2 separate regions of the Homo sapiens genome follow, and region 1 is linked to region 2. A link means that fine-mapping ties the variant in region 2 to the plasma level of a protein whose gene starts in the linked region. Region 2 holds a variant in brackets. A gene starts in the other region. All regions are shown on their forward strands. Region 1 holds the start of ANGPTL1 (angiopoietin like 1). Region 2 holds the start of GALNT12 (polypeptide N-acetylgalactosaminyltransferase 12).

What was found. A credible set is the group of variants that fine-mapping cannot tell apart. PIP is the posterior inclusion probability: the model's chance that the variant is causal. The UK Biobank Pharma Proteomics Project read protein levels with antibody pairs (Olink). The fine-mapping took linkage between variants from a reference panel, not from the people measured, so its PIPs are less certain.
Region 1: it holds the start of ANGPTL1, and the variant in region 2 is the best candidate, but not a certain one, in a credible set for the plasma level of the ANGPTL1 protein (UK Biobank, PIP 0.71).

What each region holds. Positions count from the first base shown.
Region 1 is chr1:178,869,453-178,877,731 of GRCh38, forward strand. It overlaps ANGPTL1 (angiopoietin like 1), which reads right to left and starts at 1,625. Exons shown (of 6, transcript NM_004673.4): 1 at 1,289-1,625. RALGPS2 (Ral GEF with PH domain and SH3 binding motif 2) reads left to right here. Exons shown (of 20, transcript NM_152663.5): 9 at 8,046-8,183.
Region 2 is chr9:98,807,464-98,815,787 of GRCh38, forward strand. It overlaps GALNT12 (polypeptide N-acetylgalactosaminyltransferase 12), which reads left to right and starts at 207. Exons shown (of 10, transcript NM_024642.5): 1 at 207-606. The coding sequence starts at 236. LOC124902229 (a long non-coding RNA gene) reads right to left here and starts at 117. Exons shown (of 2, transcript XR_007061689.1): 1 at 1-117. RefSeq lists silencers at 89-178, 279-348. The variant A/T (reference allele first, on the strand shown) is at 591.

The DNA of each region.
Region 1 (8,279 bases), not on the chromosome of region 2:
AGTTATCTGTGTAATTTGGGGTTCAGATTAAATGCCTGCCTTAAGACAGCGTCAGTAAGAACTGAGGCTTAATGAAGTCCTGCACTTCCCATAGCATGCAACAACAAAAAAGAGAGATGACAGTATTTCAGATCCACTGTTGCTTGGAAATTTTGTTAGAATTTCTTGTAAAATATGTGTTTAACAGAAATCCTGCCAGCATTTACAGTTTTAAATCTTTAAGGAAAGGACACAAAAGCAAAGTTGGAAAAAATTTTAGCTTTACCATTATTTGCTTGTTCAAGATTCTTAACCATTAATATCTTTAATTTTTACAAGGCTAAAGGAGCCCCAAATCTAACAAACTTAAGTGTCTTTGGTTTAAGGCATACTATTGGTAACGAGTAATTTTATCTTTAATAGTTTTTATAATGCATGTAAAAAAAGCTCCCAGATAGAATATTGAAGGAAACCTCTTATGTGTGCTTAACAAAATTATTTCTACCTAAAATATTACATATTTTTGGCCTTTTAGTCATGAATTTAATTACATCTTCTGGGTTCTTATTTTCTATTGTTAATACCACTTACATAATGCTTTTGTGTGTATATCAATAACTTAGCTTTTCCAAGTGATTCCATTTGTAGCAAGTTTAATTTCTGTCATCCAAATTAAATTACTATTACATGTAAGCCTGGAAAGCTATTTAAAATTTTGAGTTGGAACAAGAAATGCCATAGATTAATCTTAAATCTGTACAAGAATTTCTGCTTAATATTTGGTTATACTGTAATTGAGATTTTGTTGCAAAGACTTTCAACTATTTTTGTATCTTAGCTTTGTTTTATGACTACACTGAGAAATCCAACAGTTTATGTATATCTTCAGCACACACACTGTGGCTGCAGGAAGAGAAACTAATTGTGTTCACGACTATTTAGTTTGTATTCCTTTGTTTTTAATCATTGTGCTGTAAGCCTTATACATTTAATCTGTTACTTGTTAAAATTTCTTTCTACTGTCACTAAAGCACTTGTTTTCAGAAACCCAGCATGGCATGCATGTATCAGTCTGTAATCATATACACTAAACATCATTAAATTGAACCTCAAATAATGCATTAACCATTGCACAGTACTTAATGTTTTTATGTCAAGTTGCAAGATAAAACCTTTTTCAGATGAGATAAACTGTAGTATATTCCAAAGGTCTTTGTTTAGTAAAAGATTCTGAAATTTCTACTACAAATATAAAATAGTTATGCATTTGCTATACATAATATTTTTAAATAAAAGAAATATTAAATACCTTTTTGTGTCTGTTGATTCAGTGAATCCAGAAACTTGCTGCCCTTATTCTTGATTTTAAAAATCAGTGTAGAAGTTTGTTCATCTGTGACTTTAATGGCAGCTGCATTTTTGTTTTGGACCGTTGAATCCAAGCTGTAAGAAGGAACTTCTTTTTCCTTTTACAATACTAATCAATTGAATTTGACAAGCCACCTATGTAATTTTAAGTAGTATAGTGGAAGTTCTGGTCTGTGGGCCGTCTTTAATCCAGCAGAGAAAGCGTTGTGGCTTTGCTCTGTCTGCCACATGGAGAAATGCAGTAACCAGCTGCAGCTGACCCAGATTGTATATACAGTACCCCTGAATAGTGATTCCCTCTTTCTCAGTAGACTCAAGTTCAGCCCACATATTACATCACCAAAAATTGCTGGAGACTGGGGGCGGGAATCTCCTTAGGATTTCCTCTTTGTAGCCTTAAATAGGGGGGTGGGATCAGCAGGAGGTTGAATAGTTTTGAACAAGGAGAGATTGTGTGCAGGTTGAAGGAAGGGCACCATCTGGAAACAAACTATCATAGTTCAGCGGGCAATTATAAAACAAACATTTTAGTCTGCTGGCCAGAGATCTTTTAAGTTGAATACCGAAAAAAAAAATAGTGCTCCACTTCACTTAGAAGTAGTTGCAGGCTGATGAGTTTGGTTTTTGTTAACAAAGAACAAGAGCTAGACTTTGTCAGGAGGCAGCCACCTAAATAATGTAATAAATACTCTTTATAGCCTAGAAGAATTTGTAAACATTTTACTAAGTTGCTAATGAAGGTTTTAAACTTACAAGAAACTTGATGTTGTTGTAGTATGTTATGTCTTACTGTGTAATGTGTCTTAAGATAAAACAGCCTTTATATATAATTACCAAACATAAGTGAAATTCTTTCAGATGCTTAAGACTTTTAAATATTACATTCTGGTGTTACATAATGTCATATCCTCCTATTCTACAAAATGACCTCTCCTCTCTGTAAAAGGTCATTCTTGTTATTAATTGATGTGGTGTGGTTTAAAAACAAACATAACCCTGAACTGAGTAAAAAACAAGGAAGCTCTGACTCTATGCCAGCTATGTGAACTTAGACAAATCACTTTACCTGCCTCTGGCAAGGTTCTTCTGCTATGAAATAAGGTGGTGGAAGAAATGAATAAGTGTTGAGTACAACTATACTATTGTATTTCATTAATTGAAGAAATGTTAAATAACTCAGTAGCTGAAGAAACACAAACTTAGGCTTAAGTAACTTAGCTTAGCACTTAAGTACTAAGTAGTGGAACTGGGATTTGAATCTAATGCCAAAGCATTATGCCACACTCTCTGTCATTGATTACCTAGTTGCTGTAAGCTGCTTCTAGATAAAACTTTTGGGCTTTCTCTACATACCTGTGCTTTCCCTTCCTTATTGCTGTAGCTTGTGCTGTGTTTCTCTTTCTGTTAGGCCACACTGTTGATCCACATCCTTTATTTAAAGTCTGAGCTTATTTTCTACCTCTTTCACAGAATCATTTATTTGAATTCCTATGCCATATATAGGTATACCAGAGGTTGCAAACACAAGGGCCTAGAAAGGCAAATGCTCACAAGAAGAATGGAGCAGGTAATATAAATCAGTGAAGTAAATCAGTAGTAAGATACTGGAGGGAAATGAAGTTTATGGCAAGTTGGCATCCTTTTGGTTAATTTAAAGGGATCTGCCTGCACCTTCTCAGCTGTGCTTGTGGCCATGAAGGATTATGAGACAGTGTTGCCAGATCTTCCCATTATTCAGGAAAAAAGAGCCATTTAGATTTTTCCTGTAATACTTCCTGATTTTAAAAAACATTGGGACAGATGTGCTGCCAGCTTCTGGCCTCTGATTTGTATTATGTATCGTTTCTTGAGCATTCAGTAATTATGTTGTAGTCACTAATGGCTTAAATCTGGGAAAAATAAGAGATAATAAATTCTTTCTGAGCTTTTAAACTTTCAGCAGTTTGGAGCTTTCTAACTTGAGCACTTAGTAATATCACTAGCCAGGGTAGGAAATTGGAATGACAGGTATTTAGGGACAGATTATGGTTAGATATGTTAAATTGAAAATGAAAGTCAGGAGCTCAGTTATATGGAGAGATTTGAAAGTCACCAGCAATTAGGTAGTAGCTAAAGCTATGGAACTAAGATACTAGAGAAAGTACATGTAGAATGTAAAGGAAGGTTAATGACAGACCATGATACCAATTTCCAGGAAACCAGCTTACAAGAAACATGAGGAAAAAGAAGAATGGTGGGGGCTTAGGGGGAAGATACGAAAGTTCAAGGTAGGGAAAACCTGAGAACTAGACGAGAATGGTTACAATACTGCAGAGACATTACATAGGGAGGGGAGACCAAGAGAGATGTTTTAAGACTTAGAATGAGAAAGTTATTAATGCCATTGCCAAAATAAGTGATACATACAGATTTCAGATTATTTAGTGTGTTGAAGGGTGACTAGATAAAATTTAACTGACAAATTAGTGTCCACAATACATTAAGAAATTAGAAATCCATAAGAAAAAGACAACCCAAAAGAAAAAATGAACAGAAACATTTATTACATAGAAATATATACGTTTAACCTTATTACTAATCAAGGAAATAAAAATTAAGACACAGAGAGATACCATTTTATACTCAGAAGATTGGCAAAATTGAGATGGATAATACCAATTGTTAGCACAAATGTGGATCAACAGAAGCTTATATACCGTGAGTGGGAGTATGAATTGATACAGCTTTGAAAAATAATGTGACACCATCTTGTAAAGTTGAATATTAATATACTTTAGCACTTGGCAGTTTTGCTCCTAGGCATGTTTGTATATCCTGAAGAAATTTTGTACATGTGTACTGGGAGATGTGTATAAGAATGTCTATAGCAACATGGTTGGGGGTGGGATGGGAGTAACTCAAAAGTCTATCAAATAAAATGGATGAGTTACAATTGTCACACATTAGCTTGTTCTCATTATAAGGAATTACAGCAGCATTTAACAGCGTGGACAAGTCTTAGAAACAAAATAGACGAAGCAACCACAGAAGACCATATTTTTAAATTTTATTTAATAAATGCTTATAAATCACTTGGTATGTACTAGACACTTTTTTTTTGAGACGGAGTCTTGCTCTGTCACCCAAGCGGGAGTGCAGTGGTACGATCTCGGCTCACTACAAGCTCCGCCTCCTGGGTTCTCGCCATTCTCCTGCCTCAGCCTCCCATACTAGACACTTTTCTAACATTACAAATACTATTATTTAATCCACACATACAATAAAATATGATTTTTAAAGCTCAAAAATAGGCAAAAGTAGGAATACAGACAAATGTCGGGGAAAAAATAAGGGAATGATCTTAAAGTTCAAGGTAATGGTTACTTCTGGACAGGAAGCAAGGAGATGAAGTAGAGAAGGAACATACAGATAGATGCAACAGTATTGATGATGTCGTAGTTCTTTTTTAAAGTAGTTTACCCCAACATATTAAAATATTAACATGTAACCAATAAAAAAGTTAATAGATATTTTACATTAATTTTTCATGTTAACTCTTCAAAATCTTGTCTATTTTATATTCAAATACACCTCAATTCAGAATAGACCCACGAAACAGTAGTCACATGTGGCAAGTGGTTATATTGGACAGCACAGTATAGCGAGTGACTACAGGCGAGTTGTCATCTGAGTTTAATAAGATGGAAGAATGGCAAGAACTGGCACATTAGTACCCCGCTCAAATCCCACTTCTTCCTTGAAGCTTTCTCTGATCCCATCAGCAAGGAATGACATTTTTTTGCACAGAATTCTTATGAAACTCCTGTTTAAACTTTTCTGTGCTACTTTTTTATATCTTCTATTGCTGTTATTGATGTACATATGCCAACATCCCCGTGCCATTTCCTTGAGGAATCTTTTAGCTCTCCTTAGGGATGTTGTAGTCATAAGTTGACTGGTCTTTCACAAATGTTTATTATGTTGTTTGATAACAACAAGTGTCACATGTGTTGATAATTTTTTCTTAGGGCAGGAGTCTCACCATGTTGCCCAGACTGGTCTCAAACTCCTAAGCAGTCTGCCCGCCTCAGCCTCCCGAAGTGCTGAGATTACAGGCATGAGCCACCGTTCCCGGCAATAATTTTTGTGAAATCACGATTCTCACACAAATATGAAATGAATATGTGTCAGAATTTTCATTTAAATTATTAAATTTATAAGGGAATCAAAAATGTGTCAAGGGAGAATTCAAAGTAACACACATATATGCAATCAGGAACGCTGAAGTAAATTTACAAATAGTTGCAAAATTGGTCATCACTGATTAGATCCCACTGGACATAATTCTTTGGCATGTTTATGGACAATAATTTGTATTACCAGTTTTCAACAGCTGTGCAGAGTTGTAAAATAGCTCAGAAGGACCAAATGGGTGCACTGGAGACAGGATACCCAGTAATCTTTTTTCCCATCTCAAAGTTTTTCACAATTTTCCTGACACATGTGTATCAAATATTACATTAAAAATAGAACGAAGAATAAAAGAAGTGTACTATTGTATGTTTCTCTTCCAAGGTGTTTGTTGAAGGGAGGACAAGGATGTTATCTTGAGGCGTGGGATCAGATTTGAAGGAAGAGTTGCTTAGATTTTGTTTTATAAGTAGGGGAGATTTAAACATGTATATTGGGCCAGGTGCAGTGGCTCATGCCTGTAATCCTAGCACTTTGGGAGGCTGAGGCGGGTGGATCACTTGAGACCAGGAGTTCGAGACCAGCCTGGCCAACATGGTGAAACCCCATCTCTACTAAAAATGCAAGAACTACCCAGGCGTGGTTGCGCATGCCTGTCATCTCAGCTATTCGGGTGGCTGAGGCACAAGAATCACTTGAACCCAGAAGGCAGAGGTGGCAGTGAGCCGAGATCGCACCACTGCATTCCAGCCTGTGACAGAGCAAGACTCTTTCTTGAAAAAAAAAATGGTTTAAAAAAAAATATGTATACTGGCTCTGGGGAAGGAGCCAGTAGGGGTGAATGATAGTAGAGGCAACAGTGGTTGTCTGGAAGGAGGCAGCAACGATTGCATTCAAAATTACAGTTGAGATTTCGGAAGAAGAGAGAGATGATTCTTCCTCCAAGATTGGGGAAAGTGGGAAGAACCTCAGCTTCATTTGGAACCTCAAGATTCATTTGGAGTCATAGGGAAATAAAGTTGAGGTTATCTAAAGAAAAAAAAGTATGATAGGTGACTTAAAGAATACTGTAAAGATTTACTGAGTGGAAAATGAATGATACTAGGATGAGTAAAAAGATTGCCATGCCAACCTTTTATGTTAAGCACCTATTGTCAAAACATTGCACAAGATTTTCTTTCTCTTGGAGTGCAAGATAGAGCAACTGCCTTAAATGAGTTTGCAGTCTTGAATAGATAAGATATAAATGTAAAAAAAATAAGTAATGAGATTTTGAAGTCATAAAAGTCATTAAGTGAATAGTAAGCACACATAATGTATGATTTTTTAATAGAATATAAGTAATTTTTTTTTAAATTGGGCTATAAGTGAAACGTCTGAGATCCAGCTGTCACTAACAGGTTGCATGGCATTAGACAGGTCCCTTTACTATCTATGTATTTCAGGTTCTTCATCTATAAAAGGAGAGGATTAGACTAGACAGTGTCTGAATTCCTTTCTTGGAATCTGTGAGAAAACTAGAGAATATTGACACCGAATTAGATAAGCAAAATATAAGATTTGGATAGGCAGAGATAAGTCCAGAAAACATTTTAGGTATAAGAAAAAGCTGAGTAAAAACAGGGTTTATTTAGAAGGCAGTGGGTATGTCATTTTGGTTGCATTTACCCTGAGAGTACATGAACATGAAGTAATGGGGTAAAAGTAGGAAGGTATGTTTTTCTTTTCTCTCCAGCTATAGTTGTCTAATACATTTCACATGTGCATTGTGAACTCTCCAGAAATAAACTTAAATAAGTGACCTTTCATGTTAAGGACTAGTACAACCAAATTTTAGAGGATGTGTTATTTTTGTTGGTACAAAAAGCATGGAGGGTAAGAAATAGTTAACTTCAATTTGTAGTCACATGAACCATTTCAGAAATTTATTTGTTGATCTTTAAAATGTAAAACATTTCTACCAGATTGAGATAATTTTCAAAGTAGTTAAGACTCAAATGATAGCTATCAACTCAAGGCAAGAGAGTAAAAACAAATATTAAATAATTTCCCTATGTCAGTCAGTGGCTGGGCTGCTGGCTAAATTAATATCTTCAAGTTGTAACACACCTTGGAAAATGGATACTTGCATAGGTTTTAAGTCTGAGGTTCTCAGTTTAAAATAACTCTCCATTATGAAACTAGTCAGAGGCAGAGCCAATTGAAGAACTCAGCTCCTTTCCATTAATTCCCATATGTGCTGGAGTTTCTAACTCTAGCCTCAAACTATACTTGAAAATGAAATCACAAGAAGACATTTACAAAATAGCATATTATTACAAAAAATTGGTATATGTCTGACCCCAACTGTATGGAAAGCTAGGCCCCAGTAACCATATGTTACCCAGGCTTCAGTGTATTAATAGCAATATATTTTAAATGTAGCGTACAGTGGAATATATCTATAAACAACCCCTTCCCCCCTTTTCTTTGTCATAGTCTCCCAACCTACAACTAAGAAAACGTTCATTTATCTAATTGTATTTCAGGTATCTATTTGTCAGATTTAACATACATCGATTCAGCATACCCATCAACTGGCAGCATTCTAGAAAATGAGCAAAGATCAAATTTAATGAATAATATCCTTCGAATAATTTCTGATTTACAGCAGTCTTGTGAATATGGTAAGTTTCTAGGGGATAATGCCAAGCCATTAAGATTGCTGTAATCCAGTGATTTATTTACACACACTGATGATCACTTTTCACACAGCAGGGGAC
Region 2 (8,324 bases):
TAATGCACCATAGCCCAAGAAGGAAGATGCAAGTCTCAGCCAGCCCACTTGAAGACCCTGCCGAAATGAGCCACCCCGGGGGCTGCGCTTGGGCTGGCGCGGGGCTGGACGGAAAGGGGGCGGCGCGCAGGTGGGGCGGGCCGGGGGCGGGGCGGCACGGCGGTTCCGGGATCCGGGTCCTGGCCTCCACCGCCGCCTTGGGGCGCGCAGATCGCTGGCTGCAGTTGGCGGGCGCATGTGGGGGCGCACGGCGCGGCGGCGCTGCCCGCGGGAACTGCGGCGCGGCCGGGAGGCGCTGTTGGTGCTCCTGGCGCTACTGGCGTTGGCCGGGCTGGGCTCGGTGCTGCGGGCGCAGCGTGGGGCCGGGGCCGGGGCTGCCGAGCCGGGACCCCCGCGCACCCCGCGCCCCGGGCGGCGCGAGCCGGTCATGCCGCGGCCGCCGGTGCCGGCGAACGCGCTGGGCGCGCGGGGCGAGGCGGTGCGGCTGCAGCTGCAGGGCGAGGAGCTGCGGCTGCAGGAGGAGAGCGTGCGGCTGCACCAGATTAACATCTACCTCAGCGACCGCATCTCACTGCACCGCCGCCTGCCCG[A/T]GCGCTGGAACCCGCTGTGAGTGCACAGCTCTGGGGAGGAAGCCCGCCCTCAGAGCCCCGGGCCTCAGTTTCTCCATCAGAGCAGTGGCAGGGCGGGGAGCTGGGGTCTCCAGGATGGCGCGTCTTATTGAGTCTTTCTCCGAAGACGATAGTGTAAGAGCTCACATGGGGGCGGGGAGGCAAGAAAGTAAAAAAGACGAAAGTAGAAAAAAAATTACCAGAAATTGGCAAGTCTGTTAGTGATCTCTTAGCTCCCTTCTCCTTGAGAAGTTATCATCTCCCTGAAAAGGTGAGGGTCAGGGCTAAGCAGAAGGGTTTAAGGCGAGGACCCCCCAGCACCCAAAGGACAACCCCGCTCTGCCCGCCTCGCAGTGCCTCCGCGAAACTGACAACTCCTCCGGGCGGTGACCGGCTCCATTCATTCTCTGTGTGTGCCAGGGCCTAAGGGACAAACAAGATGCGAGGGAGCGCCCCACAGGTGAAGCGAAAGATGGCTGTAAGGCCCCCTCAGCGCTAGAAAGCCTCCTTGTGCTCTCCCTGGGCATTGGATTTCTGAGCTTTGGGTGGAGGAAGGCGGGAAGGGGCACGGGGTGGGAAGGGCTCCTTCTGGCCGTGATCCACCCCAGCTCACTCCTGTGGGTGGTGCTGGACTGGAGCCAGCGTGGTCAGAGGCCTAGTTCCTGTTGGAGCTACTGGCTGGGCAGGTTGCGCCCCTGCCTAGGTGGGGATCCAGGGCACACGCTGGCAGCAGGAGGAAGGACAGGTGGCTGCTGCCACCTTTGCCGCTGGGCCTCCCGGGCTCTCACTTTTTCTTCGAAGTGTCAGGGATCTTCCAAGTCCTTTTTTGAGCCCCTTCCTTACAGACTTTGAGGAAAAGAGGACTCAGAGAGGGGGTTCCCATTGGAGCTGGTGGTGGCAGCCTGCCGTGTGCACCAGGCACCTGCCACTCCTCTCCCCTTCAAGCCATTCCTGCTTTACAGGTGTGGAAATAGGTTCGGAAAGGATAGGTGACCCACCCAAGGCCCCTCAGCTGGAATGTGGTAGGACTGGTCTGGAGGGACTATGGCCCTTCTGGCCCACTTGGCACCATGCTGATCTCAGGATTTTAGGGGCCTGCTCCATGGTACCTTGGCCAGAGAGACCATGAATGATGGAATGAGGATGCCCCACCTCTGCCCCACTGTTTCCACTGTCTTCCCTGTTTTGGGGATCTCCTCATGCCTAGCCTCATGCTTCTGCCTGAGGCATTTTTCACTGTTAGTCTTTTTGAATAAAACTTTGTTGGGATTGATAGTAGTTCCTCCACTCACCAGCCTAACGCATGTTTAGCTCCTCGAAACCCCGAGGGTGCCCGCTGAGGCAAGGTGGAGGGGAAGCTTTCAGGTTATACCCAGCTTCAGATTAAATCCAGCCCAGGGGAGATAAAATCCTGGTTCTTTTGCTCGTCACTTCTGTGATCTCTGGCAAGCTGCTTAGCCTCTCAGAGCCTTGGTTTCCCTTCGTTTGCGAAATAGGAAACTCATAAAAGTGAGTCTCCATGCATTCTACATAAAAGTGAGTGGAAAGAACACAACTTAGGAATTAATAAAGCATCAATACCTGGGAGCACACTGTGTGCTTAAATCTTAGTTTTTTCACCTTTCCCTGTTGCCAAGAATGTACTCAAGAGGTTGCTTTTGAGAGTCATCCAGGGATTGGTTGTAGTTTTTCTTTCCTGGATCCAACTTCCTTTATTGTCGCAGGTTGTGAATATCTCTTTGAAACACTGTGGACAATCTGTGGGGCTTATGGTAACCTGTCTCCATGGTGACGCAGCTGCCCTGTGTCCTCTCAGGATTTGCTTGTAGATCCTGCTGTTGCATTGACCCTGGAAGTTAAGCCAAACCCAGCATGATAAGGAGTGTGAATGCCTCCTGCTTCTAATTCCTGCAGCAAGGCCTGTTGGGTTATTCTTACCCAGCCAGAGAGAAAGGTGAGCCTGAGCTGTGTGGGTCTCTGTTGGGCCAGGCTTTGAGATGTAACTTCAGAGTGGTCAGTAGGGTCAGGGTATTTTGTGGCATCTCACTTTTATTACAGTTCATCCAGGAGCTAATCAGGGTCTTGAGATTTTGCCTGAGAAACCTGAATGGCAGATCATAAGTTCACAGTGTGGGTATGGGGTTCTCTGCGAGTCTAATAAACAGAGGGATAATGAGGGTCCTTGAATGTTGCAGGAGGGAGGGCCCTGAGGGAGGAGCATCTAGTCTAACCAGAGAGGAAAAGCCACACCCCCAGGTCACATAGCACATCTCAGGCAGAGCCACAGTCCATATCTGTTACTCGTTCCTCCCTTTTTGGGTGGGGATGATTATTTCTATGTTTATTTTAATTATGAAAGCAATGCATATTCACTCTAGAAATGTTGGCATGCACAGAGAAACAGAAAAGGAAAAAAATGAAAATCCCCAATAAACCTACCACTCAGGGAGAACCATTGTTAACATTTTGCTGTGCCTCCTAGACTTTTAATGAAAGTCTTTACTCTGCAGTGCCTTTTATCAGAGGAAAGGAGTTGGGAATGACTAAGGGACCACTTGGTTTGACTCTTCCTGGTGTCAGCAGGGTGTGGCACTGTGTCTGCCTTCTTGAAGAAGGCCAGACCACTAAAAAGACATTTTAGAGTACTGGTCCTAATTCTGTGAGAGCCAGTATAGACCTGGGCCCCTCTATGAATCTAATAATTTACATGCCAGTGGATTCGAGTATAGTTTTGTTAGTTACAGCACTGAATTGAAGAGGAGGCTAATGATGACTAGGAATCCTTCCTTGCATGGTAACATAGTAAGTATTAATATATATTAATATAAATAAGTATAGTAAGTAAGTCAGTAAGCATAGTAGTATAGTATGACTAGCATCTCAGCAAAGAAGGTGAATTTTTACTCTGAGATGATAGCGGGTCAAAGTGGGGAGACAGATAGTTGGGTGTGTGGCCCTGGGGAACTTTAAAAAATATATTGATGCCAGGAATCTTCCCCAAAACAATGAAATCAGAATATCTGTGGCTAGGACCTAGGCTGAATCTGATATGCAACCACGGGTGAAAGCTACTGGCCTAGAGCCTGTGGATTTCTGAGTCAGAAGATTTAGGGTGAGTGTTTTGGAGGGTGTGGAGAATACCAGAACTAGAGAAAGTAAGGATTAATAACAGGTCAAATGTAGTTCAAGCCAGTGATGACATCATAGTCAACTGAGTGGTGTGTCACAAGGAAATGGTTATTAGTAATGTTGTACCAAAATTTGCAAAAAGTTTTAGTTTCCATAGAATACGGGGAACTTGAGATGATCACTGTAACATCATTCTCATTTGCATTCTGATATTTAGTAGAAGAGAGAGTGGAGTAACAGACAGTGCCCTCAGGGCTGGACATTTCTTCAGGTCTATCTATGACAGGAATCCCATATGTGTGAACACCAGCCATTCTCTACCAGGGCAGAAGAACTGTGAACCATTGGTCAAGGAAAGCATGGTGTTTTTATTTCTTGACTTGCTCTGGTTTTAGGCTTGTTAATACTATAATTGCAGATGTGTGTCTGAGTTCAGGGGTCAGGATTTGGGTGCTGGGATGGCAAAGAGTCTCGAAGTCGTTCTTTTTTTTTTTTTTTTTGAGATGGAGTCTTGCTATGTTGCCCAGGCTGGAGTACAATGGTGCGATCTTGGCTCACTGCAACCTCCACCTCCTGGGTTCAAGCCATTCTCCTGCCTCAGCCTCCCGAGTAGCTGGGATTATAGGCAAGCGCCACCACACCCAGCTAATTTTTGTATTTTTAGTAGACACGGGGTTTCACTATGTTGGCCAGGCTGGTCTCAGACTCCTGACCTCAGGAGATCTGCCCGTGTTGGCCTCCCAAAGTGCTGGGATTATAGGCGTGAGCCACCATGCCCAGCCTCAAAGTGGTTCTAAACAGGTAATTAAGCAAAAGTATGTCTTGCTAGGGTTGCAGAAGGGAGTAGGACATTAGACTGATGTTTATTTTGTTTCCCCAACAAAGTTGTGGATATTTTATGAATTCTTATTAGATCCATCTTGAGAACATCAGAGTGGCATTCTTTCTTGAGTCAGTACTCCAGTACTTCAAATCCACAGAACATGTTCAATTTCGGTTAGTATTTTCCTGATACCTTTTTCTTTCACTCATTCTGTGTCCATATGTTTTTGGTGTGTCTTTGAATAGTATGTTGCTCGATTTTGTGTTGTCATTAAAAAAAAATCCAGGCCAGGAGTGGTGGCTCACGCCTATAATCTCAACACTTTGGAAGGCCGAGGTGGGTGGATCACTTGAGGTCAGGAGTTCGAGATTAGCCTGGCCAACATGGTGAAAACCTGTCTGTACTAAAAATAGAAAAATTAGCTGGGCGTGGTGGTGGGTGTCTGTAGTCCCAGCTACTTGGGAGGCTGAGGCAGGAGAATTACTTGAACCCAGGAGGCTGGAGGTTGCAGTGAGCCAAGATTGCACCACTGTACTCCAGCCTGGGCGACAGAACAAGACTCCATTTAAAAAGAAAAATCCAAACTGACAATCATTAACTTTTAACAAGATAGTTATATCCACTTACATTTATTGTGCTTACTGATGCTTTTGGATTTGATAGTGCTGTCTTATTTTATGTTTTCATTTGTTATGCTTTTTTGGTGTTTTCCCCCTCTTTTTTCCTACTGCTTTTTGAGTCGATAGAGGCTTTTCCCCTCATTCCATTTTTTTCCTCTCTACTAATTTAGTAGTTATATTATCTATTTCTAACCTTAGTGGTAAATTTTAAAGTACATATTTAACTCAACAAAGTCTAAAATTAAATATTAACTATGGACCATAGAATGCTTTAGTATTGATCATCTTCTCTCCTAATTTGTATGCCATTTTGCTCCAATATTTTAATTCTGTCTTGCTTTTAAACCAACAAATTAGAATAGCTAAAAATGCAGTATTTATTTGTTCAGATTTATCCACAAGTTTACCATTTTCTCTGCTCACTATTCTTTCCTGAGTCAGAGACCTTTCTGGGATTCTTCTCCTTCTTCCTGAAATACATCATGTATTAATTGCTGTAGAGAGGTCTATTGTTAGTCCTCAGTTTTCTTTATCTGAAAATGTTTTTATTTTGCTCTTGTTCATGAAAGTTTTGCTGGGTATATAATTCTACATTGGTAGTTTGACATTTGAAGGTATTATTCCCTTGTCATCTGGTTTGCACCATTGCTATGAGATGCCTACAGTGACCCAGATCTCTCTGTCATTCTTGTTTCTTTGTCATTCATTTGAGGTCTTCTTTTATTTAAGCATATTAAGCATACTTATTTTATACTCTATGTCTGGTAATTATGTTATCTAGATTAGTGTTTTCTTGTTGTTCCTTCATGAAGAAGACTTCTTTTACTTTCCTGTCGGCTAAGCCATCCATTTAAAAAATTTTTTTTTTTTTGAGATGGAGTTTTGCTCTTGTTGCCCAGGCTGGAGTGCAATGGTGCGATCTCAGCTCACTGCAACCTCCACCTCCTGGGTTCAAGTGATTCTTCTGCCTCAGCTTCTCCCTAGTAGCTGGGATTATAGGCGCCTGCCACCATGCCCTGCTAATTTTTGTATTTTTAGTAGAAACGGGGTTTCACCATGTTGGTCAGGCTGGTCTTGAACTCCTGACCTTAGGTGATCCACCTACCTTGGCCTCTCAAAGTGCTGGGATTACGGGTGTGAGCCACAGCGCCCAGCCAAGAGATTTAAAAAAAAAAAACTTTTTATCAAGATTTTTTGGGTGTATATACCAGGAGTGTTTCCCTAGACATCTTAGTCTTCCATGTTGCCAGAAGTAGAAGTCCTATATTCACTTTTTAAAAATAATTATTTTCTACACTAGACAGGATTCTTTTGGTTAAAAGTAACTGAAAGCCCAATGCAAACTGCCTTAAATATAAAAGAAAATATATTGGGTTCTATTATAGAAAAGTCTGGGATGAGAACTGAGTTCAGGTTATTCTGGGCCCTGGATTCAGGGACTCAATTGATGTCATCACGAAATTATTGATTGGTCAGGCCTGAGGCATGTAACCTTCCCAGGGGTAGGGGTGTGTGTCTGTGTGTCTCTGTGTGTATATGCATGTGCTTGTGTATGTTCAGCCCTCCACAAACCACATAGACTGAGAATTGGAAAAGGTTGGCTCTTGAAAGGGAAATCAAGATGCAGTGTACAGTGAAGAAAGGAGAAAGGATTCTAGGCAGGTAAGACACAAAAATGTACATCACGATCTCCTTGGCCTTTTCTACAGAGGATATGATTTGATTTTTTTTAAAAGACATTTATGTGATAACCTTAATATAAAGATAAAAGAAGATCAGGAGGGGCTGGGTGCAGTGGGTCATGCCTGTAATCCCAGAACTTTAGGAGGCCAAGGAGGGCGGATCACTTGAGGTCAGGAGTTCGAGACCAGCCCTGTCCAAAATGGCGAAACCACGTCTTTACTAAAAATACAAAAATTAGCCAGGCATGGTGGCGGACACCTGTAATCCCAGCTACTTGGGAGGCTGAGGCAGGAGAATTGCCTGAACCTGGGAGGCAGAGGTGGCAGTGAGCCAAGATCCCACCACTGCACTCCAGCCTGGGTGAAAAAAAAAAAAAGGAAGATCAAGAGGCATTTACTGTATCCATTAATTCATTCATATCCATATAATAAGTAAATATTCTACCAGCAGAGATTATTGTAGTCCCTACCCAGTAGGGTTGTTAGGAAGGCTACATGAAGTAATGTGTATAAAATGCTTATATGGTGCCTCTCCTGTATTAAGCACTCAACAAATGGTACTGTTACTACCAGGTAAAGTACAAGGCGTGCTGAAAATACAGAGACAAACACAGCTCAGTCTCTGCCCTTACAAAGCACATGCAATATACCAGAAACTTAGGGAAATGATTGTGTGCTGTGATGTAGCATTAAATCCAGTTCTGAGCTTCCTTTTGTCCTCAAGGCAAAAGTGGAACCTTAAAGTGATCCATAGCTGTCTTTGTATGATCAAAAGATGCACAGCTTTTTATTAGTCAGGAAAAGGAGAAAGTGTTTTTTTCTGGAAGCAAACTTAAAGACATTTCAAAAAGATATACAGACGATCTCCGATTTAAGATCGTTTGACTTAAGATTTTTCAACTCTATCATAGTACCCATTGCAACCAACCTGGTTTTCACTTTTGGTACATATTTGGTAAATTATATGAGGTATCCAATACTTTATTATACAGTAGATTTGTGTTAGATGATTTTGCCCAACTATAGACTAATGGAAGTGTTCTGAGCACATTTAAGATAGACTAGGCTAGGCTGTGGTGTTCAGTAGGTTAGGTGTATTAAATGCATTTTCTACTTAGAATGTTTTCAACTTACGATGAGTTTATTGGGATGTAACCCCACCGTAAGTCAAGGGGCATTGGTATTGAACCTCATAAAACAGAATGCCTTTAGGAGATGTTTTCAAAAAAGAAACAGAAACTATACCAGGACAAGAAAAAGAGAAAGGGCAGAGTATTAAATTATTGCTCAATGAAGGCATTTGCTGTGAGGAACTAAAGAAATATGATCTAATCTTTTAAAAATAATATTTCTTTGTGATTATAAAAATTATAGATGTTCATTTTAGGACAATTTTAGAATGCACAAAAATATAAAAAGTAAGAATCAGCAATAATCTCACTTCTTAGAGATCACCATTGAT